Regions from separate parts of the Homo sapiens genome. Here all the other regions are reported to be linked to region 5. Evidence: microRNA targets listed by miRTarBase, many of them from high-throughput screens and not tested one by one. Region 5 holds a microRNA gene; each other region holds the end of a gene's coding sequence. Distances are between the middles of the regions.
The links. Region 5 holds the annotated microRNA hsa-miR-197-3p (UUCACCACCUUCUCCACCCAGC, at 2,372-2,393, opposite strand). A microRNA usually pairs through its seed, bases 2 to 8, with sites in the 3' UTR of a target mRNA and lowers its output. Matches are read on the target gene's strand: a 7mer-m8 pairs with bases 2 to 8, a 7mer-A1 pairs with bases 2 to 7 and ends in A, and an 8mer does both.

Region 1 (4,066 bases), not on the chromosome of region 5:
CACCTGTGCGCTCTGTCGCCCAGGCTGGAGTGCAGTGGTGCGATCACGGCTCACTGCAGCCTGGAACTCCTGGCCTCAAAGGATCCTCCCGCTTCAACCTCCCAAAGTGCTGGGATTACAGGCGCTCACCATCGCTCCCGGCCCTTTGATTCTCGAATTGCGGTCTCATCTTCTGGGTGCTAGGTCTCCAGCTCTGGCCTTTCCATTTAGGGCCCTAGGCATCCTCTCTTCCCGTCTCCGGCACGGAGTTCCTGGGATCTAACCAGTTCCCATTCCTGGGGGCCCATGCGTCCTCGCGAGCGTCCCTGACCGCCCGGCGTGGAGCCTCCTGGGAGTTGTGGCCTTCATTATCTCCCCCCCGATCTCACTTAGAGGAAGGCTCACGGAAGTGGAGAGCCTGGCTCGAGCTGCCATGGTAATCTAACTCATGTAACCCTTTTCTCCCTCCACCAGAAGGGACTTCCTCGCCCGAAGAGCGCGGGCACAGCAACGCAGATGCGGCAAAGCTCCAGCTGGACGCGAGTCTTCCAGTCCTGGTGGGATCGGAACTTGGGCAGGGGAAGCTCCGCCCCCTCCCAGTGACCTTCGCTCCACATCCCGAAACTCCACCCGTTCCCACTGCCCTGGGCAGCCATCTTGAATATGGGCGGAAGTACTTCCCTCAGGCCTATGCAAAAAGAGGATCCGTGCTGTCTCCTTTGGAGGGAGGGCTGACCCAGATTCCCTTCCGGTGCGTGTGAAGCCACGGAAGGCTTGGTCCCATCGGAAGTTTTGGGTTTTCCGCCCACAGCCGCCGGAAGTGGCTCCGTGGCCCCGCCCTCAGGCTCCGGGCTTTCCCCCAGGCGCCTGCGCTAAGTCGCGAGCCAGGTTTAACCGTTGCGTCACCGGGACCCGAGCCCCCGCGATGCCCTGGGGGCCGTGCTCACTACCAAATGTTAATAAAGCCCGCGTCTGTGCCGCCGAGGCTTTTCTGTGCGTCGACTGGGGCTCCGGCAGGCCGGGGTAGTGCTCTCACGGATACTTTCAAAAGAGGCCGCTGTCTTACGAGGGAAACTTAGGCTCTGCCTGACATCCAGCGACAGAGACGGAAGGGGTCGCGGCGGCTCGCGGGCCTGGGCTGCGCGGCCCAGGTCCAAGTCCCCAGCACGCGCATTGGGACCGCAGCGCTGCCGGCAGCCCGATCCCGCGCTCTGCAAACCGTGCCGCGGCCCCCCAGAGAGGGTCACTCGCTCCTATTTGGGTCAGCCCTTTCCAGCAGCTACTGTGTGGCCGGCCCGGGGCCAGCGCCGCCCGGGTACCTCGCGGGGCGGGAGGGAGCGGCTGAGCCAGGCTGGCAGCAGCGCGGTCGCTGGAAACTGAGGCTTCATGCGGGGACCCGGACAGAGCGGGGGCTCCGTTCCAGAAAGATTTATTGGCGCCCCCTATAACCCGGGCCGGTTCTTGGTGCCGGGCACAGAGATGCATTGCGCCACGGCCCTGCTCGCGGAAGCTCCCGAGGGCCCGGAATCGGCAGGGCAGTCAGAGAGGGCTTCAGGGAGGAGGCAGCTAGAGCTGCGACCGGAAGGTGAGGTGAGGGTCATCCCCCCCGGCGCAAGGAGGAGTGGACCCATGGAAGGACAGGGGAGCAGCAGAGGCCAGGCTTCTAGGGGCTGGAATGTCACACCCAGAAGTTAGACATTCAGCTGGTATTTGAGGACCTGGGAACTGACTTGGAGTGTGTCCCTCAGTGGACACCAGCTAGAGTCAGGAAGGTGGGAGTTGGCTGCTGAGGAGCCTAGATACGGAATACACTGGAGTGAGCAGAACTGGGGGATAGGGCAGCGTCCCACAGAAGAAGTGAGGAAGTCTGGGGCCATTGCATTGACCCTGAGGGAGGAGGGCCCTACTCCGGAGCCTGTTTCCCTGGCCTCCCCACCCCATCTGTTTGCCTGAGGCTGCAGCAAAAACAAAGCAAAGAAGATACTCAATTGGCAGGAGATAAGCCCAGATAAGAGGCCGCCTTCCCCTGGAGGAGGGATGCAGGCGGGCAGCCTGGGAAGAGCCAGGAAGCTGGGAGAGGCCTTGAAGAGGTGCCAAGCCGACCCTGCTGCGAGCCCAGCCCCGCCCTGGAGCCCGCACTGTGGGCTCTCTGCCACTTTTCGCTGGTCTTGAGGCATGGGACAGGTCCAGGCTGGCTGAAGACAGTCCACCACGGAGGGTCCAGGCCTGCCCTGCCTCCAGGTCAGGACGTCTTGACTTAGCTGTGGCCTAGCACACGACAGATGGCTCCGGGCCTCAGTCTCCTCATCTGTAAAACAGGCATAACATCTCCCTCACAGGGATGAGGGGATGCTGGGTGGCCCAGCCCCTGCGTGTCTGTGACTGTCCACTTCCCTTCCCCCAGAGTCACAGGCAGGCCTACTGCCCACCTATTTCTGAAGACCCAGGTCCCCCGGTGTTGGGCAGGTTCTGAGCTGCCCTGCTCCACCCTGGCCGATCCATCACCTGATAGAGTCAACTGCCTGTCGGGGGCCCAGAGCAGCCCCAGCGGAAGATACTAGGCGTTTGGGTCATATCAGGCCACAGGAAGCGGGGCAGGGAAGGCTTCCTGAAGCAGAGGCCTGAGCCTCAGAAAAGAGAGAACAGGGAGAGCCTCGGAGAGACGAAAGTCATGGGGATGGGGGAACAGGAACAGCGGCTTGGGGGCAGAGGGCACAAGCAGAAGGCCACGGAAGCTCAGCAGACTCGGCAGGGCAAGCTCAGGTTCAACCCAGCAGCCCTTGGCTGGAGGCGTGACCTCAACCCCACCAAATGCCCAAAGTCCATTTTATAGATGAGGAAACTTAGGGCCCAGAGTCCTGTCACCCCAAATCACACTGCACACAGGGTCCCTGAAATCCACTTTTATTCATGTAAAAAAAATCCCCAAAGAATAGAGAAAAAAATGTGACTCCTACTTCCCGGAGCTCCAAGTCTCCAGCCAGCTCTCCCGGGGAAGGGAGGAGACGCTGCTAGCTCGAGGGTGTGGGTGTCACAGGGAGCAAAGCCCTGACCAAGGCCCTAACCTAAGACTGAGGGCAGGAAGGAGGGGCCCCAGGAGGATGAAGGGAGTTAGCTGAGGTACTTGCCCCGGGTTTAAAAAAATAAAATTTCTAGATAAAAAGTTAAAAAAAAAAAAAAAAAGCATTAGTGTCATTGCCTCCTGCCCTCCACCCAGCGCCCGCCCTGGCCCTGTGGCCACCTCGCTCAGCCAGTTCAGAGCTGCGTGTTCTCCTCCTGGCTCTCCGAGTCAGCGCCCGACAGGTGCCCGCTGCTCCCGGGTGCGTGACCGTTGCTGGCACAGGCCACCAGAGGCCCGTCCCCCAGCCCCTCCGGCATCTCGCCCAGCAGGCTCCGGCGGATCTCCTGGGGGAGCCTCGCCCGCTGCTCCTGACACTCCTGGGCCAGCTGGGCCAGCAGCTGTGGGAGAAGGATGGGCATCACAGGCGAGGCCTGGCTGCCTTGCACCCCGTCTGCCCACCTGTTCGCCCATGGCCTCACCTTGGGCTCCTCTTCTGCCAGCTGTTGCAGGACCTGCTGCTGCCCAGCCACAAGACGGTCATGCCGCTGCTTCTGGGCCTCCTCCAGCTACAGGGGTGGGCAAGGGCTCAGCTGAGGGGCCCTGAGGGAGGGGCTAGAGCCTCGAGGCTCTGGCTGGGTATAGAAGTCAGGTGGGCGAGGCCGGGTGCAGTGGCTCACATCTATAATCCCAGCACTTTGGGAGGCCAAGGCGGGCGGATCACCTGAGGTCAGGAGTTCGAGAACAGCCTGGCCAACATGGTGAAACCCCATCTCTACTAAAAATAAAAAAATTAGCCAGGCATGGTGGCGGATGCCTGTAATCCCAGCTACTCGGGAGGCTGAGGCAAGAGAATTGCTTGAACCCAAGAGGTTGCAGTGAGCCAAGATCGCGCCACTGCACTCCAGCCTGGGCGACAGAGTGAGACTCTGTCTCAAAGAAAAAGAAGTCAGGTGGGCGAAGGCTCCCAGGGCAATGTATCAGGGTTGTGAGAGGACTGGGCCCAAGGACGCCAAAGCCAGGGACACT
Region 2 (4,056 bases), not on the chromosome of region 5:
TTCATTGATGGAGTCAATTATGCAAAGTGGTCAGTGGTTGTTGAAGCATGCATTGCTTCAACAGGATTTGCGTGCATTTCCCATGATCCTGCATTCTTGTGTTCTTGATAGCATACAGACTTACTCAGAATCAACAGTTGCTGCTTAATTTGTCTATTTTGTAAGCTTAGGCTACTATTTTATTAAAACTGGACATAGATACTTGGCTGAATACAAATAGTTTTGCAGATTGCAATATAATAAAGGAAACAGTAAAAACTAGTGGGCTATGCTTAGGTTTTTCTTGAAACCTAACATTGCTTTAGGCTGGGTGCCGTGGCTCGTGCCTGTAATCCCAGTGCTTTGGGAGGCTGAGGTGGGAGGATCACTTGAGACCAGGAGTTTGAGACCAATTTGGGCAACACAGTGAGACCCCATCTCTAAAAAAATTTTAAAAATTAGGCAGGCATGGTGGTGCATACCTGTAATCTCAGATACTTGGGAGGTTGAGGTGGTAGGATTGCTTGAGCTCAGGAGTTTGAGGCTGCAGTAAGCTATGATCACGGCCACTGCACACCAGCCTGGTAGCCTGGGTGAAAGGGGGAGACCCTGTCTCTTAAAAAAAAGGGCTGGCCTGTAATCCCAGCACTTTTGAAGGCCAAGGCAGGCAGATCATTTGAGCCCAGGAGTTCAGGACGAGCCTGGGCAACATGGCAAAACCCTGTCTCTACCAAAAAATTAAAAAATAAAAAATAGCTGGGTGTAGTGGCACATGCCTGTAGTCCCAACTACTCAGGAGTCTGAGGTAGGAGGATCAGTTGAGCCCGGGAAGTCGAGGCTGCAGTGAGCCATGTTGGCACCACTGCACTCCAGCCTGGGCAACAGATTAAGACCCTGTCTCAAAAAAAAAAAAAAAAGTGAAAAATAGATAAAACAGGTCTTCATTGTTACCTGTGAGAAATGGCCCTGATTCTATTACTCTTATATGCCAGTTTGTTTATAGATTTCTGTGTGTTTGATTTGAACTTTTTTTTTTTTTTTTTTTTTTTTGAGACAGACTCTCACTCTGTTGCCCAGGTTGGAGTGCAGTGGTGTGATCTCAGTTCACTGCAACCTCTGCCTCCCGGGTTCAAGCAGTTCTCTGTCGCAGCGTCCCAGGTAGCTGGGATTACAGGCGCCCACCACCACGCCCAGCTAATTTTTGTACTTTTAGTAGAGACAGGGTTTCACCATCTTGGCCAGACTGGTCTTGAACTCCTAACCTCAGGATCCACCCGCCTCGGCCTCCCAAAGTGCTGGGAGCCACCGCGCCCAGCCTGGTTTGAACATTATTAAGCTGTTGAATATAAACTTGAAAATAATTTTCTATGATACAGCTTTCAGGTAGAAAAATGAATTTTCGTTGTGTTTAACAATGTTGTGTTTAACAGCTTATACAAATAACACAGTATAAATGGTAATTGCCACTGTCATTTTAAAAATCAGAAAATAGTAAATAAAAGGATGTGGAAGAGTCTCATGTGATACAGTGGAGATTTCATACCGAATAAAAGCATTATAAATATGGTTAAATTGAACATAAGCATAAATTTAACGGAACTCATTAGAAAAAAATAAGCCTTTTTTCTCAGGTTTGTTTCATTACTGTATGGTGAGACAACTGATTCACCACGATTTAGTCTAGAGCTACTTTTCTATTCTGAATAGTTTTTGGTAAAACTATTGGCTGAATTATTAGGCTGTTATAGTAATCTGCCTCCGTCAAGTGTATTTTCTTGGGTTAAGGAAAAAAAAATTTTTTTTTAACTATTCACGGAAGCTGGATGTTCTTCCTTGTCATTTGAATCAAGGCCGTCTAACAGGAATTGAATAATTCAGGGACTAGCATTTAACCCATATCAGGTCTAGGCAAGAAAAGACATACATTAGGAAGCCTTAGGATATCATTAAACTGCCTAGGGTAGTCAAAATTATTGAGTAGACACCAGACCTCAGTGGATTACTTAAGTAAATGGGGTCAGATGTCATCATGAAGAAAATTAACAGGAAGAAAATGAGAGTACAGAAGAAATGTTTTGAAAATAGAGTGAAATACAACTTTGAAGACCATGGCTGAGAAGTGCTAGGAATAGTGGCAGCACATCAACCAGAAATGGTGTTGAGCTGTAAGAAACAGACGTCAGGCTTCATATTGCCCTTGTGTCCAGGGGACAAGGATGAAAAAGCTTTTTGATTAAGAGCAGTAGACCAAATCAAAGCTAATTATGTCATTTTGGCCAGGCGCAGTGGCTCATGCCTGTAATGCCAGCACTTTGGAAGGCCAAGGCGCTCAGATCACGTGAGCCCAGGAGTTCAAGACCAGCCTGGGGAACATGGCAAAACCCTGCCTCTACCAAAAAATACAAAAAAATTAGCCAGTATAGTGGCACATGCCTGCAGTCCCAGCTACTTGGGAGGCTGAGGTGGCAGGTTTTATATATATATATAAAAAACACATATATATATATGTGTGTGTGTGTCATCATTTTAAGTCTCACTGTGCAAAGCTATGAGTCCTCAATACTTTGGACTACTTAGTGTAATATATTAGTTGTTAGAATAGCATATATATATATATATATATATATATACATACACATACATACACATACAAACATAGTGCAAAAAGATGTTTCAGGGAAAACATCAGTTTACAACATAATGTCTTTCATGACTCAAGTAAAAGCTCACAAGTAATTTCTTCTGAAACCCAGATCACTGAATTACAGGTTTGCCTATAGATGTACCAGGTCAAAGGCTGTGCCAGAGAGAATGAAATACTAATTATTTTCAGGCTGATAGGTTCAGTTCCTGCAAAGCCTGTAGGTCTTGCTCTACCCTTTGACTGCCTTAATCAGCTGCCGAGCTTCATGCCATTGTTTACAAGGGGAATTGGGTGAATAAATGTAGACAGATTACAGTAAATCCACGTTGCCTGCAAAAGTGACTAAGGTGTATCCTTTACTGATAAAGTAAGGATGAAATGTGGAAACATATAATTAAATTATAAATTACCAAGCTTTTGTGATAATTCATATGCTTTTAAATATTTTGAACCTAAGTGTTACCCTCAAAATGTTTTAAAATATAAAAATCAAGAAATAGAGCAAGCAGGAAATGGGATTTTAAACATTTTGATTTCAAGAAATAGAACTATCTTAAATATGATGCTGAAACAATCTGAGAGGCAGGAGATAGGACTCAGGCAACAGAGATCCGAGGAAATATATATGGGCATTTTGTGGTTCATTTTTCTTGTGTGGCATGTGGTACAACTGAAGCATAAATCTTTTTGATATCATCTAGTTTTGCCAGAGGTATGGGACAGTTCATATTCTGTCCATAAGTTCGGCTACTTACATAAACTGAAATACAAGTGCAACTCCAAACAGGTTTTTTCTTTTCTGGACACCATCATCAAGCATGGAAGACTGGATCTGGAATTTCCCTTCATATCTTGCCAGTTGGCCTCCCAGTTTCTTGCTTATGTTTTCTCCTGGTGTGTTTTCAACATTGTAATTGTTTTCAATCAACTGTATAAGTTTTATTTTCTTCAAAGCATCTATTGATTCCTTTTTTAAAATCATGTCTCCTAGCTCCTTTAAATGTTTGGAAAACGGTAGTTAAGTTTCTTGGTATCACAGTAGTACTTCTTATTATCCAAAGCTGGAAGGATGCTGCTGCCAGTTAGCTGGGGTAGGTACTGCAACTAAAAATGCAAAACACAGAATTAGGTTCAAAACTGTGCCATGCATTTTTTTCATTATTTAGAATATATCACAAAAGAGGTAATTAAGCTTTTTAGTATAGAAGTACTTTTTTTGCACACAATCCAGGACTTGAGAGAGGATTAAATGTTTCAATTTCGTCTTGGCTTTTCCTTTTAAATGTTTATATTAAAAAGGAAAAACATTCACATTAAAGAAGATTTAGAGAATATGAAAAGGGGAAAATCTACATGTTAACATTATTGGGAAGAAAACATAGATTTACAGGAGTTGAGAGCTTGCTGAGATCTTAGGGATCATTTAAGCCAAT
Region 3 (4,054 bases), 87 Mb from region 5:
TGCAGCTTCCAGGCACGTGAGGTTTAAACACACACCCGCCACCCCATTAGCCTGTCTTCAGCTTGTGGTGACCACGTCACCAGCCCCCAGGTGAGAGACGAACTCTTAGGGCCCTTCTCACCATTCTCCTTCCTTTCTGGGAGTCCCTGATTGATCCCGCAAATAAAGGGCAGGGACCTGTCTCCCCACTGTCTGTCTGACTGGATTTCTTTTCACCCCTCAGCCCCGATTATCAGAACTCTAGCCCGAGGCATGAAGCTGACATGCCTTCCGTGGTCAGTGGGAAGTCAGAATGCTTCCTCAGAGGAGACCTGGATTGCCAGGGAAACCTGGTACTCACACTGCAGACCCTGCTACTCACTGGGCTCAAAGTTTCCCAAACACAGAGCTTCTGAGACAGAAGAGAGAGGCTGTCTCTTCATGTCTCTTTACCCATAAAATAAATGAGTAAAGACCCCTGGTCCCTGCCCCTCTGGTTCCAGGTTCTGCTCATGCGCGTGGACAGTAGGAGTCTCACCTTCCCGCAGTAATCCTTGCTCTTGAATCATCTATTTGCTGTCTCACTTACCTATGATGGGCAAGTCCTGTTCCATAACTGACCCCAGTATTCCCACAGAATCACACTCCAGCCTGGAATCTGACTGCCTTTCCCTCCTCACCACCTGGGCCATGAGCTCTGGGAGCAGAGGTCTGGGGACCCACCGAACAGATCCATGTGTTCCAAGAAGCCCACAGACTCCTTCACACCACCCCAAAGGCCCCAGAGTTCAGTCCAGAGGCCATAAGGGCAGCAGCCTATGGGGAACGAGGCAAAAACAACACCGGGACCCCATGGAAGCGAGCGATGTGGACTCAGGAGACCACACAAACACTGTCCTCTATGGCAGCAATTCAGGTCTCTTGGGCAGAAGTAGGAGAAAAGGATAAAATGGCCAAGCAGAGTCAGAAAGTTTTCCTATAAGATCCATGCCTGGGCTTCTCTAGAGAGCAAGACTATAAAATCAGTCAGCCAGTGCGGAGCCCACTCAGAGCAGACAGTAAACTCGGGAAGGGCCTTCCCCTCTTTCTTGATGAGAACCAGCACTGGGTTTGTGCCTTCTGCTGAGTGTGCCATGGGCCAGAGGGCATCTGATGGGCCCCGGCAGCCAGTCCACTCTCGGCACAGTAAGCTGCAAATCTGGTGATTCCGAAGAAAACAAATGTCTTGTCACAATCTGGGTCTCCAACAGAAACCTGGCCAGGCGTAGTGGCTCATGTCTGTAATCCTAGCACTTTGGGAGGCCCAGGTGGGAGAACTGCTTGAGCTCAGGAGTTTTAAACCAGCCTGGGCAACATGGCGAGACCCTGTCTCTACAAAAAAAAAAAAAAATACAAAAACTGGCCAGCAGTGGTGGCTCACGCCTGTGGTCCCAGCTACTTGGGAAGCTGTGGCAGGAGGATTGCGTGAGCCCGCAGAGGTTGCAGTGAGCCAAGATCGTGCCACTGTGTTCCAGTCTGGGTGACAGAGCAAGACCCTGTCTCCCCCAAAAAAAGAAACCTGAGAAAGAATTTCTCAGTGCTTGAAAGGATCTGACACTGGAATTCAAAATTTACAGCCCTCTTTATTCCGAAGAGTTTTTTTTGTTGTTGTTTGTTTTTTCTTTTTAAATCACTTCCCTATAAGCCCTCAGCAATTATTTCTAGTTTTGTTTTGGAAGAAATTTTAATGACATTCACTGCAACTCCCAAGCCCCATCCCACAGCTTGTGAGGGGCTGGATTCTCATCCACTGGACTTGGCACCAATGCCCTGTAAGCATGTGCCACTCTACGATCTTTCAGTGGGTTTTCTCTGCTGCCAAGGGGATATTCAGTGCCATTTTGCCACCTGCAGATCAAGAGCTCTCCCAGACTGACAGTTCCCAGGACGGAAAAGCCTTAATACAGGCACAGCCTTGGTAGAAACAGTGAGCCCTTCACATGGAGATGAAGTCTTAAAGGTTTGAGCACCATCTTCTGGTCAGTTTTTGGCTTCTGAGGCCGACTCTGCTTTAGAAACTTCATTTATTTCAGAATGGCAGAACCCTAATTGACAAGCTCAAGTGATCTGCGTATCAAAATGTGGACAGGACCAGAAGCAGGTGTAGTCGGCTGGGATGAGCTGTCCCAGGCTGGCCGGAGCTGGCGCTCGCTGTGGAAACCGTCGGGGCTGCCTGCACAAAGCCGGCAGATGCCAGTCAGTGGGCGTGCTGGTCAGTAAGGCTGTGCCTTCTGCGCTTCAAGCAGGGTGAGACCTGACCATGTGGGAGCAATAAAAGCTTCCATGGTGACCAAACGTGACTCCTGCCTCTGTACATGGCAATGTGAGATGTGCCTGGAAGGAAGGGGTGGCCCCATCTCTGCCAGTGTGGGATCCAACCAGGCACTCCCCTCCACAGGGGGTCAAGCCACACAAGGTGGCAGACAGCCCTGCCTGGTGTGTAAACACCGCACCAGCAGACTCCAACCTTTGGCATGGAAGGAAAAGAAGATAAATGCTAGTCATTCTCTCCAAACGGCAGGAACCTACATCTATCTAATTGCACTTCATAATGGATTCCACAAACCATTAATTATCAGATTATATTTTAGGAACTGAAGATAAAAAAAGCTTTGTGAAATTCAAACTCCAAAGGATCACTGACCTGCAATAAGTGTGGCGGCCTGCGGGAGGTGAGGCAGCAGGCCACTCACAAGGCAGGGAGTGGGCGGCAGCAGAGCCACGGGCAGTCACGGCTGCTCCTCCACACGCAGACAGGACTGCCTGCCTGGTGCTGGTCACAGTCTGCACCATATGACCCAGAGGGAGCCAGGCTGCCAGGTCAGGCAGAGATTTCAGCCTTTGATTAAAGGAAGGGGATGAAGATGACACGGAAGAGCTGTGGGAACCAGGCTTCAGGTAAGGAATACCAAGAAGAATGTCCTGGAAAGGCAGACACTGTCTAGCAGCTGATGCCTCACATTAAACACTTCCAGCAGAAACTCCAGAGCTTTGTTTTGGGAAGAGCTGACAACTGACAAGGGGTTATCAGGCATGGAAATGAGGGCTACCTGTCCTATAGCCATCAATAGGGTGCTGGGCGTGGCCACTGGGTGGAGGGGGAACCCCAGCAGAGGGTAGGATGATAGGACCGAGGAAGGGGCCAAGTGTGCCTCAGGAAGGGGCCTAAGGTCCCCGAATTGTCTGTTGGTGCCCCTCTCACTTTAAATGGCCAGAGGCAGTGGCAGCATTTGCAGCCCCCACTGTGGGCCAAGTCCCATATCTAACTGCCATTCTGCCCACTGAGCGCTGTCGGCACATCATGCCTCCTGGGGTACCCTGGTCACCAGCTCCCATCCCACTGCTCTTTCAGACTCTACTTCTGAAGCCACATGTCACTTGGGGATGGACAGTGTCATAGAGGCCGCAGCAGCGGGCCTGTGGGGAGGGAGGCCTGTCTGCTACAGAGGATGGTGCTGTTGGTGTTGAGGGCTCAGATGCTGTTGGTTCTATGAGAACAACGAAGCTTCCATCTGTTTTCTAGGTGAGACTGTGTTGGTTGGTGCTAAGCTAAGATGCTCACCACTCAGGACAGCCAGGGATGGAGGGCAAAGGGCAAGCTGTGGGGCCTCCTCTCTGCTGCAAACGCAGGAAGGCTCTGCCGGATGAAAGGCTGCTCATTTGGCCTCACCACAGATCAGCGTCACTGTGCCATCCAGCAAGTCCTCCACAGTCACCGCCACGAGCTCAGAGCTGGCCTGAGATGCCTGAGAATCTGGCAACGTCACAAACACCTGCGACCCGGCAAGCTGGGTCTCCTCCAAAGTGATCACCTGCTCTGTCGGGGCCACCGGCTCTGGGGTTTGGATCACCTGAAAGAGAAAGACCGTGAGGCTGCTCTGGGCAGTGTTCACAGTTGGCTCCCTGATTTACATGGTTTTCATCTCATGCTGTAATGATGATATTTATGTTTTCACCTGAGGAGAGCACTTACATGTGCCTAATGGGAAGAGGCAAGTCTAACCCACTGGCGATGCAAAAGAGAAGGCCAGCAAAC
Region 4 (4,057 bases), not on the chromosome of region 5:
CGTATTCTGCTGTTGGGTGTCCTTGGAGTCACAGAGTAACAGCTGATCTAGACTAAATCCTATGTTAACCAGAAATAAACTCCAGAGAAAGGAGTGCCATCCTATTACTTCCTCTCCACCCCCTGACTAACGCTACCTTAGTGTTTCTGAATATGAGAGTAGAAAAAGAAGATCATTTTTTAAATATGTGTTTTTAAATTGCATTTTTAGAACTCTGCTGCACAGTTCTGCAACATCTGCAGTGCTAAGAACCGTGGACCAGGAAGTGCAATTTTGGAGATGAAAAAATAGCTCATTTCTCCTTGTCAGTCTCCTTGTCACCACTCTTTTTGAGACTGTTTTTGCAACAACAAAAGCATTTGTTGACACTCGTGCTGTTAAGAGATTTGTTTATGTTTATATTATACTCAAAAACAATTTCTTCATCTATTCCTGTACTAATGGTTTCTCTTTGCAGTTCACAGAGAATTTGGGGCTCTCTTCATGCCTTGAAATTTTGGGGTCCATAGTGAATATTTTGTTATTTATTTGTTTGGCTCATTCTTTATATAGTAATGGAAACATAAGTCTAGGAGTTAGAAATGAATTTTTTAGACCTTAGTAAAACCATTTAACCATAAAATGGACAACTGAGAATTCTCCCAGCTGCCTGAAAGCGTCGCCAACTGTGGTTATCCTGCAAGCTGCTACCTGCAACTTGGACGTTGTTTCCACGTGCTCTGCTGGCTACGATTCTTGCATTCTGGGTTTGGCTTTTTTCTGTGTCATCAACTATGGTTATCCTCTAAATAGGCATTTAATGAAACATTGTACAAATTGTCACTCATTTGATGACACCTGGGAATAACATTAGCAGGCTGATGTCCTGCACCATTATGTTTACTAATCACATGTTCTGTGTGCTGTGACGACTGTCAAAGAGTATCTGGCCATGGCGGACACTCAGCATTTGTTGATTGAATAAATGTTAGCTCTTCTCATTGTGAAGGACTCACTTTTACTGGGATAAACAAATGCAGTTAAGAATTCTGGCACCCTTGTAAGGAAGAAAAGAGAGTTCAACACCTTCGAGTCTGAGCGCTTGTGGCTAGAGTTTGCCAGGAGGGAGGAAACCAGTGACCCTGAAAACTGAGGGTGCCTCAGGAGCAGTGGGACCACCTGATGCTGAAGGACGGACTAATGATGTTTCCTCTTGCCTTCTCTGGTGCCTCCATTGCCCTCATGGAACAGAGCATATCATAGAGGGAGAAAAGTCAAACTTGTAATTGTGTCTTACAGTTACTGGCTTCATCTTCCTTGGGATATATGGTCATCCTCTAATGAGTGTAAAAGTGCGCAAAACACATCCTTATTGTTCCTGATCTCTTAGTCCCATAAATGGGAACAAATACAGCTTTCTGCTTCTTTCTTTTTGGGGAAAGGACAGGGTGCTAGTGAGTACTGACAGCATGCCAGCTACCGAAGTCACCCAGCCATTCCCATGAGCAGCAGTTCATTTAATTGTCACAGCGTCGCCAGGAAGAAGATCTGATAAACCTAGGTTTACAGATAAAGAAAGCAAAATGTAGAGATGTTGTTGAGGTCACAGAGGTGACTGCCTAACTTCAGAGCAGGGCTTCTGATCCCTTTAAGAAATTACAGGGCCAGCCGGGCATGGTGGCTCACGCCCGTAATCCCAGGGCTTTGGGAGGCCTTGGCAGGTGGATCACCTGAGATCGCACGTTCGAGACCAGCCTGACCAACATGGAGAAACCCCATCTCTACTAAAAACACAAATTAGCCAGGCGTGGTGGTACATGCCTGTAATCCCAGCTACTCAGGAGGCTGAGGCAGGAGAATCACTTGACCCCAGGAGACGTAGGTTGTGGTGAGCTGAGATCGCGCCATTGCACTCCAGCCTGGGCAACAAGAGCAAAACTCCGTCTCAAAAAAGAAAAGAAAAGAAAAGAAATCATAGGGCCAAGTTCAAAGGAAATGCACAGAACATATCTTCACATTAGAGTTAAGAATTCTCTAGCAAACAACAGATTTTTTTGTTGTTGTTAGTCACAAATACTTAGAACTGGAAGGCTCTTTGTTATTATTGAATGTACCCCTCAGCCTTCTCAGCATTTCCTTATCCCAAGACTAGTGTGCTTTCTGCTACACTGCTAGTTTTCAGTTTTGTTCTTACCCAATTGTTTTTTCTTTTCAACATTACCAATTTACAGATTCAGTTTATTACATTTACATTAATCCTCACTTATGATTTGAGCAAGCTCATTTCCAGAAAAGTTTACTTTAAGATCATCAATAGGATTTGCTAATTTCAGTGAAGTCATTTTGCTTCAGGGGTAAATTATCCTAGTTACCAAGTCCTATTTGGACATAAAGAAAATCCTACTTATAGAAAAGGAGAAAATAATTAAACAGTCTTCATTTTTAAGTAACTGATTTAAAAGGAAAATAATAAAATATGTTCGTTTATCATTTCAGAAATTGCTGTAACACACTGGAAAATTCCTGAACAATATAGATTTTATCGTTAATAAAAAACACTAGCTTTCGTTCCTTAGAATGTCTTTTCTTTTGAATAAACAGTATTGGGTGATTTATTAAAGGATATTCAATCCTTTTTACTTTTCATCAACCTATAAGGGCTTAAATATGGCAAAATAATCCAAGTGTTAGTCAATTATTTTTCATGTGTGACTAGCCCAATTTAAAATATAGGTAAAAAGGAAACCCATTCCCCTCGTTTTGGGGAAGAACATAGTTGCAAAGTACACACTTCATAAGCTATTCTTTTTTTTTTTTTTTTTTTTTTTTTTTTTGAGATGGAGTCTCGTTCTGTTGCCTTGGCTGGAGTGCAGTGACATGATCTTGGCTCACTGCAACCTCCGCCTCCCAGGTTCAAGTGATTCTCCCGTCTCAGCTTCCGGAGTAGGTGGGAGTACAGGCACGCACCACCATGCCCAGCTAATTTTTTGTACTTTGGTAGAGATGAGGTTTCACCATGTTGCCCAAGCTGGTCTCGAACTCCTGAGCTCAGGAATCCGCCCACCTCGGCCTTCCGAAGTGTTAGGATTACAGGCGTAAGTCACCATGCCCAGCCAAGAAAGCTATTCTTGAAGTGTAAAACAGCCAGGTGCAAAATTATTTTGGAGTACTTTAGTTTGCTTTTGTTTTTAGCCAAAGGGATTTCATACTGGTTTAATTATGTTCATCCTTGAGAATTTTTGAGAAGTTTCCAACAGATTTGTAGTTCATTTTGCTGTTGTTACAATGTAAAGCTATATATAGTTGACCCTTGAACAACACAGGTTGGAACTGCAAGGATCCACTTATACATGGATTTTCTTCTGCCTCTGCCACCCTTGAGACGGCAAGACCAGGCCCTCCCCTTCCTCCTCCTTCTCAGCCTACTCAGTATGAAGACGACAGAGATGAAACACTTATGATGATCCACTTCTACTTAATGAGTAGTAAATATATTTTCTTTTCCTTATGATTTTCTTACTATTTTCTTTAGCTTGCTTTATTATAAGAATATAGCATATAATATAAATAAAATATAAAATATGTGTTAATGGTCTATTTATGTCACCAGTAAGGCTTCCAGTCCACAGTAGTCTATTAGTAGTTAGGTTTTGGGGGAATTATACGTGGATTTTTGACTGCATGGGGTGTCAGCACCTCATCCCCCACATTGTTCAAGGTTCTACTGTATTTTAATATTAAAAACCAAACATGCATTGAGTAATTACTATGTGTTAGGAATTATTAGAAGCACTTTGCTTATACTATTTAATTATATTAATGTATCCCTATGAAATTGGTGTTATTACCATCATCGTCATTTTATGGATGAAGAAACTGAAGCACGTAAAGGTTAAGTAACTTGTCCAGGGTCAGGTAGCTGATAGTGGAACACCTAGCTGAAATTCAAACCCATGCAGTTGCCTTCAGAGTGCCTGATCTTAACTGGTGCATATTTGATTTTTTTGTTGTTAAAACATACTTATTTGAGCTGTTTTGGTCAGTGGATAGAAAGCAAAATCCACTCTTAGAATAGAAA
Region 5 (4,066 bases):
ATATCATGCTCCAACCATTACTAATCTGTTCACTTTAACTCAACATACAGGAGTTCTGAATCTGTTTTGTATCATGGATCCTTCCGGCAATCTGATGAAACCATGTGCCTCTTTTCATCATCATATTTTTAAACACGTAAAATTAAATTCAGAGAAATACAAAGAAAACTAGCATATCAAATAGTCTCTCTGTAGACTCGCTGGAGCTCTGAAGCCCCAGGTTAAGAACCCTTACTATACAAGCTATGATCTTGTCTATTCAGGCCCCAAACATAATTTATCCCATTTATTCCATCTCCAAATAGGATAGCCCTACTTTCCCTCAAATAGTACCAGATTGTTGATTATTTTATTAACTTTTCCTTGGTCTTTCAATCTAGGTATAAATTGGTTATTGACCAAACTATAAGTCTAACTCAGGATCCTTGGTTATTAATGTTCACACAGAACCTGCCTTATAGTACTAGTACAGAAGCAGAGCCAGTGGGACAGGTCTTCTGACAGGTCTTAGGTCAGAACACAAGTCTCTAGCAGACTAAAACATGGTTGTATTTAGTCCTCTTCTTTTGGGATAGCTGGGGGATATCCCAACTTTTAACTGGTTTATCAACAAACTCACACAAGCCACCTTGTACAAACATTATGTAAAGTGTTCATCTTGGAGGATAGAGCAACATTCTATAGCTGTTTTTTTACTGAGTTTGGGATCTGCCTATATTCATCTTATGATGTTTTCAAGCTAAAACTCTTCTGGCAAGTCTACATGAAATGCAACAGGGGCCCTTGAGCACCCATTCACCTATTACCTTAGAACACAGTCAGAATAATTTTCTCAAACCCTTGGTCCAGAATGGGCTCTCCCATGATTAAAGGTAAGAGGACTTCACCTCGATGCTCTTGATAGGCTTCCAGAAAAGGCATTCACCCTTACCCTAGCTCAACTGTTTGTCAGGCCCAACGATTGTTCCCAAACCTTACATGTTAGAGCTGCAGAAAAAGTGCATTTGTACTTTTCCTGCACAATTAGCTTATTTTTATCTCATGGACATTTTGATTGTATTCATGAAAAGTTCTTATATAAAACAGCTATAAGAAAGATTAAAATAAAAATTAAGTCATTATCTTTCTTTTGCCTCATTTTAAATTTACACCGTACTGTTGAATTTTTATTTACTTTAAGCCATCAAGTTTTTTTTTTTTTTGTAACCAGATCAGAAACAAATATTTAACCCTATTTTCTGGCATGCAACCTTAATTCTTAAGACTGCTAAAGTTAGAACAAACTTAAAAATAGTCCAGCCCCATCACTAGCAATTTATAGATCAAAAACTGAAGCCCAGGAAGGAAGAGTATCTTCATCAAGATCACAACGCTAGGCAGTAGCAGAACTAGAACTCCAGAACAGGTCTTCTCAATCCAAAGCCTGTGATGATGTCCAGCTACCAACAGAGCACCATACACTATAAAATCAAAGCCAATTTCTTGTTCTTCTAAGCTCCTCCCATTCCCAACCAAATTCTTGGTCATTTTTTCATTATGCCGTCTCTAAATCGTGGACATTTAACAAAACCACCTCCAAGCTAAGACAAATAGATCTCAAAATAGAATATGAAAACAGCATAAAATCACAAAAATATAACTAAGTTTGCTTGTTTGTTGAAGGTAAAATTTCCTCTTCATATTCTTAGAGGGAGAGACCATAATGTACTTCCCTAGCATAGCATGATTAAAGAGACATTACTAACAGTAAATCAAATGTAAATTACGTTACATTTCACATAAATCTGATAGTTTTCCTTTTTTAGACAAAAATACAATATGATTGACACAAAAGGACAAATACTATGATTCCACTTATATGAGGTATCTAAAATAGTCAAATTCATAGAGACAAAGGAAAATGCTGGTTACCAGGGGCTGAAAGAAGGTGGGGCATGGGGAGTTACTGTTTAACAGGTACAGAGTTTCAGTTCAGGAAGATGAAAACAAGTTCTGGAAATGGATGGTGGTGATGGCTGTGCAACAGTGTGAATGTACTTAATGCCACTGAACTGTACACTTAAGATGGCAAATTTTGTTATATATGCTTTATCACAATTTTAAAAATAGAAAAAATATACTATAATTAGAAATTTGTATTTCTGTGGATAAAAGGAAGAATGGATAAAAGCGGCACAAAAGTTGTCTTAAAAGCAACATAAAAGACACATTAACTTGAAACAGTTCCTACTCTGGTAATAAAATCCACTCACATGTACCTCCAAATAGTCCAAAACAGAGTATTCCTTCCCATCCCCACGGTGAGACATAACAGCATTCAAAACCCACTCTATACTTGGAGATGTGCCGTAGACCAAAGTGTGCCGGCCATGCTGGGTGGAGAAGGTGGTGAAGGGTGAAGAGCTCTTACCTCCCACTGCCCTCTCTACCCGGCACAGCCCCCAGAGCACAGATTCCAGAAGGATTTCGGTGTTGGGCCAGGGACTGCAAGTGTGACAGAGCCTCTGGTGGTCCTGCTAGGTAAAAGCATGAAAACATTTCTGTGAGGTCAGAAGACACTGGAGACTGCAGAAGGGAACTTTTCTGTCTTTTTGCCATGAAAAAGCACTAGTATAAGCAGAAAATAGACAGCTGGATTTAAATGTAAAACAAAGCAAAGACCTTTTCACCCTGCTTCACGAATTTTAGAGCAATTTATAGTTCAACTTCATTTCAGGTCTTCAAAATGAATATGGGCAAAGTAATGCTGTAAAAGACCACCCACTACGTTGAATACCTTTGTTGGTGCTGCCTTAGGATTTTTTTTTTTCTGTGCAGTATAATCCTGAGTATCATAACATTTACAAAGCATTTTCAAATATGTTATTTCTATCTGATGAGAACCACAGAATATCACAGCAGGAAGGAATAATTTAGTCCATCTTTAGATAACAGATGAGTGATTTAAGACTGAAAGAATACACAAGATTCCATAGCTGGTTGGAAGCAGAGACAAGACCAGAACCCAGCATTCCAAACAACTCTCCAACCTCGTAAGATTCTGAGAGGTCTCAGGACCTTTATCCTACATGAGCAAGAATAAACAGAACAGGTGATTTCTTGTGTTTTGTTGTATCTACTGGAAATCTCTCTTACATATAAATAAGCATCTTAGTAAAAATGTCTGGATAACCTAAGGAGAATTTTGGGCGTAGGGAGAGGTAAAAGATAAGAGGAGACAGATAAACCAGGTTGTTCATAATTTAATATTCCTGCTGTCACAGATTTTATAGCTTAGTGAATGCTGGTACACTGAGATACTTCTATCCCAGCAGTGTATTAATATTTATTATTTGATTATTTCTGGTACCTTGTGATTCTCACTAGATTTCAGGAAAACACTAGCACTGGGCATACAAAGGCTTTTACATGTGACTCAATCATTCCCCTTATATACCCCCGTACCCATTTCAAAACGACTTTCATTCTAGTTTAGAGCTAGCTAGCTTTGCTTTCTCTACCAAGTGTAAATAAATATTCATGTTATTACATATACTGTTATCTGTCACAGGGTTTTATCTTTAATTTGGTGTATCTTTCAATTTTCACTGCATAAATAAATGCAGTAAAATAAATGAAATGAATGTTTGGACATCCTAGGTTTCTTGTTGTCTTAATTTTGTATAAAACTAAATACTCTGTATCCAAAGTGTAGGAATGTTATGTGACCCAACAGTTTTCAATAATTTTCTTGGTGGAAGGCACTTTAAGTCATGTACAAATGGTACTTCTTATTGGCAAAAAATAGATCACTCACTAGTGATTTTGAGCTTATTTGTGCACTGAAGTTGCTTATTTTCAATATTTGTGTTGACTTTAAAAAAAAACAAAAAAAAAACAGACTCACTCTGTCGCCCAGGCTGGAATTCAGTGGTGCGATCTCGGCTCACTGCAACCTCTGCCTCCCAGGTTCAAGCGATTCTCCTGCCTCAGCCTCCCGAGTAGCTAGGATTACAGGCATCCACCACCATGCCTGGCTAATTTTTGTATTTTTAGTAAAGACGGGGTTTCACCATGTTGGCCAAGC
Region 6 (4,066 bases), not on the chromosome of region 5:
TGTCTACTTCTTTCTACACAGACACAGCAACCATCCGATTTCTCAATCTTTTCCCCACCTTTCCCCCTTTTCTATTCCACAAAACCGCCATTGTCATCATGGCCCGTTCTCAATGAGCTGTTGGGTACACCTCCCAGACGGGGTGGTGGCCGGGCAGAGGGGCTCCTCACTTCCCAGTAGGGGCGGCCGGGCAGAGGCGCCCCTCACCTCCCGGATGGGGCGGCTGGCCGGGCAGGGGGCTGAGCCCCCCACCTCCCTCCCGGCGGAGCAGCTAGCCGGGCAGGGGGCTGACCCCCCACCTCCCTCCCGGATGGGGCGTCTCGCCTGGCGGGGGGCTGACCCCCCCCACCTCCCTCCCGGACGGAGCCGCTGGCCGGGCGGGGGGCTGACCCCCCCACCTCCCTCCCGGACGGGGCGGCTGGCCGGGCAGAGGGGCTCCTCACTTCCCAGTAGGGGCTGCCGGGCCGAGGCGCCCCTCACCTCCCGGATGGGGCGGCTGGCCGGGCAGGGGGCTGACCCCCCCACCTCCCTCCAGGACGGGGCGGCTGGCCGGGCGGGGGGCTGACCCCCCCACCTCCCTCCCGGACGGGGCGGCTGGCCGGGCGGGGGGCTGACTCCCCCACCTCCCTTCCGGACGGGGCGGCTGGCCGGGCAGAGGGGCTCCTCACTTCCCAGTAGGGGCGGCCGGGCAGAGGCGCCCCTCACCTCCCGGACGGGGTGGCTGGCCGGGTGGGGGGCTGACCCCCCACCTCCCTCCCGGACGGGGCGGCTGCCGGGCGGAGACGCTCCTCACTTCCCAGACGGTGTGGCAGCCGGGCGGAGGGGCTCCTCACTTCTCAGATGGGGCGGTTGCCAGGCGGAGGGTCTCCTCACTTCTCAGACGGGGCGGCTGGGCAGAGACGCTCCTCACCTCCCAGACGGGGCGGCGGGGCAGAGGCGCTCCCCACATCTCAGACGATGGGCAGCCGGGCAGAGAAGCTCCTCACTTCCTAGATGGGATGGTGGCCGGGAAGAGGCGCTCCTCACTTCCTAGGTGGGATGGCGGCCAGGCAGAGACGCTCCTCACTTCCTAGATGGGATGGCGGCCGGGCAGAGACGCTCCTCACTTTCCAGACTGGGCAGCCAGGCAGAGGGGCTCCTCACATCCCAGACGATGGGCGGCCAGGCAGAGACGCACCTCACTTCACAGATGGGGTAGCGGCCGGGCAGAGGCTGCAATCTCGGCACTTTGGGGGGCCAAGGCAGGCGGCTGGGAGGTGGAGGTTGTAGCCGAGATCACACCACTGCACTCCAGCCTGGGCACCATTGAGCACTGAGTTAACGAGACTCCGTCTGCAATCCCGGCACCTCGGGAGGCCGAGGCTGGCGGATCACTCGCGGTTAGGAGCTGGAGACCAGCCCGGCCAACACAGCGAAACCCCATCTCCACCAAAAAAATACGAAAACCCGTCAGGCCTGGCGGCGCCCGCCTGCAATCGCAGGCACTGGGCAGGCTGAGGCAGGAGAATCAGGCAGGGAGGTTGCAGTGAGCCGAGATGGCAGCAGCACAGTCCAGCTTCGGCTCGGCATGAGAGGGAGACCGTGGAAATAGAGGGAGAGGGAGAGGGAGACCGTGGAAAGAGGGGGGGGGGGGGGAGGGGGAGGGGGAGGGGGAGGGAGAGAAGAATTTTTATGACTACTCACCTAGACAGGATTAAAAAACTGCATTTTGTCTTAATATACCATGTGGCCATTATATTTTTGGGAGGTTGCTTTTCTGTGGTACGTTTAAATAATGTTACCATTGGCATCTTGACAGAACTGTTTCTGTTGAATGATTTCCTTAGGATAAATTCTCAGTGGTGGAGGAGACTGATGGGACAAAGTCAATTAATGACTCATGCTTTGTGTTTCTTCAATGCTTTTAAAAGGGGGACTTATTTTCCTTACAGCTGTAACATTTGATTTCCTAAATATTTATTTATATTTAAAAAGTATTTGTATGTGTTAAGATATTTTGCCATTCAATACATTTTAAGAAGTTAACCTTATTTCACGTCCGCCCAATGAAAAAATATTTTGCTATACTATAGGAGAAACTTGAATCACTTAGAACTTGTCATTTAAAATATTTGTTTATGGAAGGGAAACCTCTTTTTCCTCTTGTTATCCCTCAGAGATCTTTTTAAATGGAATGTTTTACCTTTTTCAGCACATGTAAGTTATCTACTTGTGAGAAGGGAGCTGATTAACCTGTGATATTTTTGCTGAAGATTTGTATGTCATTAAATCAGCAGTATATGCTCAACACCTACTAATGATAGTAGTCACTAGGAGAGATAGAAAAGATTGAAAATATATCCCTGGAAAAATTAATAATGCCAAAAGATCTGTTCAAAAAAGGTTTTATCCAAAAAAGTTAATCAAGACAAGCAACAGATACTGCAAAGCATTATATACAGCACCATAGTCCAGGGGCCAAAGAAATCAGGAGGGGCTGGGCAGTAGAGGAATTCCATATATTAATGAATGTGAGATTAAGTATAGAGTGAAGACATTAACACACAATTCTAATTTCTGTTAGGCAGAATGCTCCCCTACCCTGATGCCACAGCCTTTCACGTTTCCTAAACCCTAGTAACCTCTGATCTCCATCTGCCTCATCAACACGTCACCACCCTTTGCTCTTCTTCCAATTAGTCACATGTTGGCTGAATTTATTTCACTCCAGTACTTTAGGACCTTGACAGACAAATCGATTACAAGGTCAATTCCCAGGATTTCTTCAGGGTGTGTTCAGGAGTGCAGATGTTCTTTGGATGACCTTTCTACTAAATTAGACCTCTGAAGGAGAAAGCTACTTGCCAGAGGCTTTCCCTGAGAGCATTAGGTTGGGCAAAATCTGACTAAAATTTAATTACTAAATGAAAGTGTGTACCTTAGAGTTCCTGGCCAGAGTTGACTCTAGGTAGTGATGTGATTTTCTTGGGATGTTTTTCTAAATATTCTTTTATGCTAAAGCACATGGCTTGATACTTCTGTTGATTAAGCTCGTGTCTACTTACAGTCATCTAGTGAGAACCTGTGGTGTGGTGAGATGATAACTTGGTCTTTGGTCTTCATCATTTGAACTAGTTTTGGTTTTGTCTTGTCCCTTCCTTGAGCATTTTGTGTGTGTTTAATCCTATTTGGTAAACGAACCACTGTGAAAGACCAAGTTGGAGAAAACAGAACACCCCCAAAACATTTATTTTTTTTTTTAGAAAATCATGGCTCACTATGGTAGTATACAATATTGTTTTCACACATGTACACTTGAAACCAAATTTCTAAAACTTGTTTTTCTTAAAAAATAGTTGTTGTAACATTAAACCATAACCTAATCAGTGTGTTCACTATGCTTCCACACTAGCCAGTCTTCTCACACTTCTTCTGGTTTCAAGTCTCAAGGCCTGACAGACAGAAGGGCTTGGAGATTTTTTTTCTTTACAATTCAGTCTTCAGCAACTTGAGAGCTTTCTTCATGTTGTCAAGCACTAATGGGGGATAAAAGCAGGAGAGTCAAGACACCATCGTGCGTTATATCGATATAATAAACCCCAAACTTGGATGCTCAATTCATTATTTAATGGGATGCTTTTTTTTTTGAGACAAGGTCTCACTCCCACTCAGGCTGGCATGCAGTGGTGCAATCTCCACTCAGTGCAACCTCTGCCTCCTGGGTTCAAGTGATTCTTCAGCCTTAGCCTCCTGAGTAGCTGGGATTAGAGGTGTGCTCCACCATGCCCAGCTAATTTTTGTATTTTTGGGAGAGATGGGGTTTTGGTATGCTGGCCAGGCTGGTCTCGAACTCCTGAGCTCAAGTGATCCACACACCTCGGCCTCCCAAAGTGCTGGGATTACAGGCGTGAGCCACTGTGCCCAGCCTGATAGGATGCTTTTTATCATGAGGTGAATAGTTGGTAATCTTATTGTAATTTAAAAAAATTATATGAAATGGCTTTTGTGACAATCTAGTTTTCTAGTGTAGTCATTCCTTCCCAGATCCTTCATCTCCAACCCTCACTTCCAAAAGAATCCTTTTATA
Region 7 (4,066 bases), not on the chromosome of region 5:
AGGTTGCAGTGAGCCGAGATCATGCCACTGTACTCCAGCCTGGGTGACAGAGTGACACTCCATCTCAAAAAAAATTTTTTTAATAACGAAATAAAAGAACAAGTAGATTTAAAACAAATCAAAGAAACAGGAAGTGAAATCAGCTCCGACCTCTCCCACCACCTGCTCTCCTCACAGTCTCCTTGCTATAAGCACCTGTTCTCAGACAAAACAGGAAAGATTCTGCTATTGATTAAGGGAGCTTATTGATCAATAAATTGATCGCAATCCTTGTATTTTAGGAGGCTGAAGCAGGAGGATTGTTTGAGACCAGGAGTTTAAGCCCAGTCTGGGCAACAAAGCAAGACCCCTGTCTATACAAAAAAAAAAAAAAATTAAAATTAGCTGGGTGTGGTGGGGGCACACCTGTAGTTCTAGTTATACAGGAGTCTGAGGACGGAGGATTTCTTGAGCTCAGGTGTTTGAGGCTTCAGTGAGCTATGATTACAACACTGCACTCCAGCCTGGGCGACAGAGTGAGACCTTGTCTCAAAAAATAAAATAAGGCCAGGCATGGTGGCTCACGCCTGTAATCTTAGCACTTTAGGGGGCTGAGGTGGGCGGATCACTTGAGGTCAGGAGTTCGAGACCAGCCTGGCCAACATGGCAAAGCCCTGTCTCTACTAAAAATACAAAAATTAGCCAGGCATGGTGGCACGTGCCTGAAATCCCAGCTATTCAGGAGGCTGAGGCAGAAGAACCAGTTAAACCTGGAAAGCAGAGGTTGCAGTGAGCCGAGATCACGCCGCTGCACTCCAGCCTGGGCAACAGAGCAAGACTCTGTCACAAAAAAAAAAAAAATAAATTGATTGGTTTGGAGAATGTCTACCCACCCTTGGATGCAATTCAGGGATTGTCCAAAGGGAATACTATGTTGAGTTATGCCTAGCTGGGAGTAGTACCAGCCCTCTAATTGGTATTTTTTGGTTGTCACATGGCCAGGGCAGGAGGGTCGGGTGGGGGTCACTCTGGCAGTTTGTGAATGTTATGGGCCAAATTGTGCCACCCCTCCCAAATGCATATGTTTAAATTCTAATTCCCAGGACCTCCTAATATGGCTGTATTTGGAGACAGGATCTTTAAAGTGGTCGTTGTAGGCCCAGCACAGTGGCTCATGCCTGTAATCCCAGCACTTTGGGGGACCAAGGTGGGCAGATTGCTTGAGCCTAGGAGTTCAAAACCAGTCTGGGCAACATGGTGAAACCCCGTTGCTACAAAAAATACAAGAATTAACCAGGCACGGTGGTGCACACCTGTAATCCCAGCTACTCAGGAGGCTGAGGCGGGAGGATGCTTAAGCCTGGGAGGTGGAAGTTGCAGTGAGCTGAGATCACACCACTGCACTCCAGCCTGAGTGACAGAGCGAGACCCTGTCTCAAAAACAAAAGAAGAGGAGGAGGAGATTAGGACCCAGACACACAGAAGGAGAACCAGGTGAAGACACAGGGAGAAGAGGATCATCTACAAGCCAAGACAGGAGGCCTCAGAAGAAATTAACCCTGCCAACACCTTGATCTTGGACATCCAGCCTCCGGAACTGTGAGAAAATGCATTCTGTTGCTGAAGCCACCCAGTCCTTTGTTATGGCAGCCCCAGCAAACTAACACACAGTAGACAAGGAACACCCAACATAGTGGCATTTTGAGAAGCACTAACATTGCAAGAGCTAATAGCCCAGGAAAGTCCACACAGAAGTAAAGTGAATTTTTATTTTTATTTATTTATTTGAGATGGAGTCTTGCTCTGTCACCCAGGCTGGAGTGCAGTGGCACAATCTCGGCTCACTGCAACCTCCGCCTCCTGGGTTCAAGCAATTCTCGTGCCTTAGTCTCCTGAGTAGCTGGGATTACAGGCACATGCCACCACGCCCAGCTAATTTTTTTGTATTTTTAGTAGAGATAGGATTTTACCATGTTGGCCAGGCTGGTCTCGAAATCCTGACCCCAGGTGATCAGCCCACCTCAGTCTCCCAGAGTGCTGGGATTACAGGCGTGAGCCACTGTGCCTGGCAAGTAAAGTGAATTATATCATCAAAGACGTTACAACCCACAGATAGCTCAAGGGCACGTGCTGGCAGATAGGTCCATCGTTGTCCTGTGTGGATATGACCAGGTTATGGCCTGCCTGGCCACACTATGTAGGGGTCTTGCTTTTCAGCTGGTATGCCTTTCTAGAAGTTCCATGGGCCAGCCAGGTGTGAGGGTGAACGCCTGTAGTCCCAGCTACTTGGGAGGCTGAGGCAGGAGGATCACTCGAGCCCAGGAGGCAGAGGGTGCAGTAAGCTATGATTGTGCCACTGCACTCCAGCCTGGGTAGTAGAATGAAACCCTATCTCAAAAAAAAAAAAAAAAAAAAAAAAGGATAGAAGTTCCACGGGCCAAGTCTTCTGGCAAAAGTCTGATTCTGCCACTTAGCTTGTGCAAACCTCACCCAAGACATTGAGAAAGTTGCTGGTCAAAAATAATTTTGATGGTTTCTGGGTTATTTGTGCTGTTTGAGACCAGGAAGGAAGCAGTGTCTGGAGAGGACGACATGGGGTGAATATAGAAGCTCTCCTGTCTTCTCCGCTGATGTTCTGTATTTTTAGGTTTGTAATTTGCAATGATGTGGGGACTACATGAGACCAGCCCACTTAATGTATTTCTGTGCGAGGCAGATCTAGAGGTCTAGCTCAAAGGGAAATTTTTCTGTCACCACTTTCAAAGCTTTTGTTTGGAAAAAAAAAAAAAAGGAAAAGATGGGGAAAGTAAAAATAAAAATAAAAATATCGGCCAGGTACGGTGACACATGCCTGTAATCCCAGCACTTTGGGAGGCCATCACGGAAGGATTGCTTGACCCCAGGAGTTTGAGACCAGCCTCGGCAACAGAGTGAGACCTCATCTCTATAAAAATAATAATAATAATTTTGAGCCAGGCACAGTGGCTCACACCTGTAATCCTCACAATTTGGGAAGCCCAAGTAGGAGGATCCATTGAGGCAAGGAGTTTGAGACTGGCCTGGGCAACATAGTGAGACTCCCTCTCTTTAAATGCTACAAAAAATTGGCCAGGCATGGTGGTGCGCATGTGTAGTCCCAGCTACTCAGGAGGCTGAGATGGGAGGATCACCTGAGCCCAGAAGTTTGAGGCTGCAGGAAAAGGAGCCCAGTCCCAGCTCTTTGTGGTTCACAGGCGCCAGGATATTTCATCCCAGGTTCAACACCAGCCCCAGGGTCCTCAGGGCTAGTATCACTTCCCAAGAGTCATGATCAGGAACTTAGTGAAGATCCTTTCAACCCCAGAAGTGGGAGACCTCCCACCACCAAGCTCTGAGCATCCTCCCAGCTCACCATCTACTAGGGCAAGCCCAAGTCCTCACTCTAGAAACAGCCTGACTTGCACCCCTGGGAACTTGCTGCATCCAGGGTGCCAATCCTGTTTGAGGCACATCTGTGTGTCCACTCACGAAGAGGCAAGGCCGTCCACGAAAGGGCAGGAGATTCTCATCTCAAAGAGACACTCAGATATGGACCCCCAGCCTCGGCCCTGGGCTTCAACAGGAACATTTCCGCTCACAAATCCAATACGTAGTTTTGTAGCAAGAGAGATCATTCCAGGTGCCACCTTTGTTCATGGTAGCACAGTCCTCATCGTGGATGTTATTGGGTTCCTCTGGCTCCCAGAAGCTGGATGGAGGAAAAAGTGGGCAGAGGGACAGGGATCTTTAGGGTGGTGAAACTCTTCTGTATAATACTGTAATGATGAATACCTGGCACTACGCATTTGGCAAAACCCATATTAGGCCGTGTGTGGAGCCTTACACCTGTAAGCCGGGCACAGTGAGCCACCGTGCCTGGCCCTTAATCAATTTCTGGTTTTGGGGGGTTTTTTGTTTTGTTTTGTTTTGTTTTGGAGACAGAGTCTCACTCTGTCGCTGAGGCTGGAGTGCAGTGGCGTGATCTCGGCTCACTGCAACCTCTGTCTCCTGGGTTCAAGCAATTCTCCTGCCTCAGCCTCCCAAGTAGCTGGGATTACAGGTGTCCACC

Region 1: the mRNA of PLCB3 is a reported target of hsa-miR-197-3p. The part of its 3' UTR that is shown has no 7-base or 8-base seed match.
Region 2: the mRNA of CDKL1 is a reported target of hsa-miR-197-3p. Seed matches in the 3' UTR shown: 8mer at 1,644-1,651 and 7mer-A1 at 1,205-1,211.
Region 3: the mRNA of ZBTB40 is a reported target of hsa-miR-197-3p. Seed matches in the 3' UTR shown: 7mer-m8 at 3,577-3,583 and 7mer-m8 at 656-662.
Region 4: miRTarBase lists VPS41 as a target of hsa-miR-197-3p. Seed matches in the 3' UTR shown: 7mer-m8 at 1,865-1,871.
Region 6: the mRNA of AGR2 is a reported target of hsa-miR-197-3p. Seed matches in the 3' UTR shown: 7mer-m8 at 2,651-2,657.
Region 7: the mRNA of CLEC17A is a reported target of hsa-miR-197-3p. Seed matches in the 3' UTR shown: 7mer-m8 at 2,730-2,736.

The regions. Positions count from the first base shown.
Region 1 is chr11:64,266,725-64,270,790 of GRCh38, reverse strand. It overlaps PLCB3 (phospholipase C beta 3), which reads right to left. Exons shown (of 31, transcript NM_000932.5): 30 at 3,520-3,606; 31 at 2,868-3,438. The coding sequence ends at 3,235. It overlaps BAD (BCL2 associated agonist of cell death), which reads left to right. Exons shown (of 4, transcript NM_032989.3): 4 at 454-961. The coding sequence ends at 582. It also overlaps a transcript of GPR137 not described here. Among named protein-coding and RNA genes, the nearest start is that of BAD, 16 kb to the left of the region's middle. RefSeq lists enhancers at 1-170, 300-729 and a silencer at 1,180-1,299.
Region 2 is chr14:50,326,455-50,330,510 of GRCh38, forward strand. CDKL1 (cyclin dependent kinase like 1) reads right to left here. Exons shown (of 10, transcript NM_004196.7): 10 at 1-3,727. The coding sequence ends at 3,620. It overlaps DMAC2L (distal membrane arm assembly component 2 like), which reads left to right. Exons shown (of 6, transcript NM_001382507.1): 6 at 1-1,503. Among named protein-coding and RNA genes, the nearest start is that of DMAC2L, 16 kb to the left of the region's middle.
Region 3 is chr1:22,526,017-22,530,070 of GRCh38, reverse strand. ZBTB40 (zinc finger and BTB domain containing 40) reads right to left here. Exons shown (of 18, transcript NM_014870.4): 18 at 1-3,869. The coding sequence ends at 3,675. Among named protein-coding and RNA genes, the nearest start is that of EPHA8, 35 kb to the left of the region's middle.
Region 4 is chr7:38,722,480-38,726,536 of GRCh38, reverse strand. VPS41 (VPS41 subunit of HOPS complex) reads left to right here. Exons shown (of 29, transcript NM_014396.4): 29 at 211-3,563. The coding sequence ends at 291. Among named protein-coding and RNA genes, the nearest start is that of AMPH, 93 kb to the right of the region's middle.
Region 5 is chr1:109,597,267-109,601,332 of GRCh38, reverse strand. It overlaps MIR197 (microRNA 197), which reads right to left and starts at 2,440; the gene lies at 2,366-2,440. It overlaps GNAI3 (G protein subunit alpha i3), which reads right to left. Exons shown (of 9, transcript NM_006496.4): 9 at 1,138-4,066.
Region 6 is chr7:16,789,443-16,793,508 of GRCh38, forward strand. AGR2 (anterior gradient 2, protein disulphide isomerase family member) reads right to left here. Exons shown (of 8, transcript NM_006408.4): 8 at 2,369-3,515. The coding sequence ends at 3,466. Among named protein-coding and RNA genes, the nearest start is that of AGR2, 14 kb to the right of the region's middle.
Region 7 is chr19:14,609,704-14,613,769 of GRCh38, reverse strand. CLEC17A (C-type lectin domain containing 17A) reads right to left here. Exons shown (of 14, transcript NM_001204118.2): 14 at 1,735-3,706. The coding sequence ends at 3,574. It also overlaps a transcript of ADGRE3 not described here. Among named protein-coding and RNA genes, the nearest start is that of SNORA104, 10 kb to the left of the region's middle.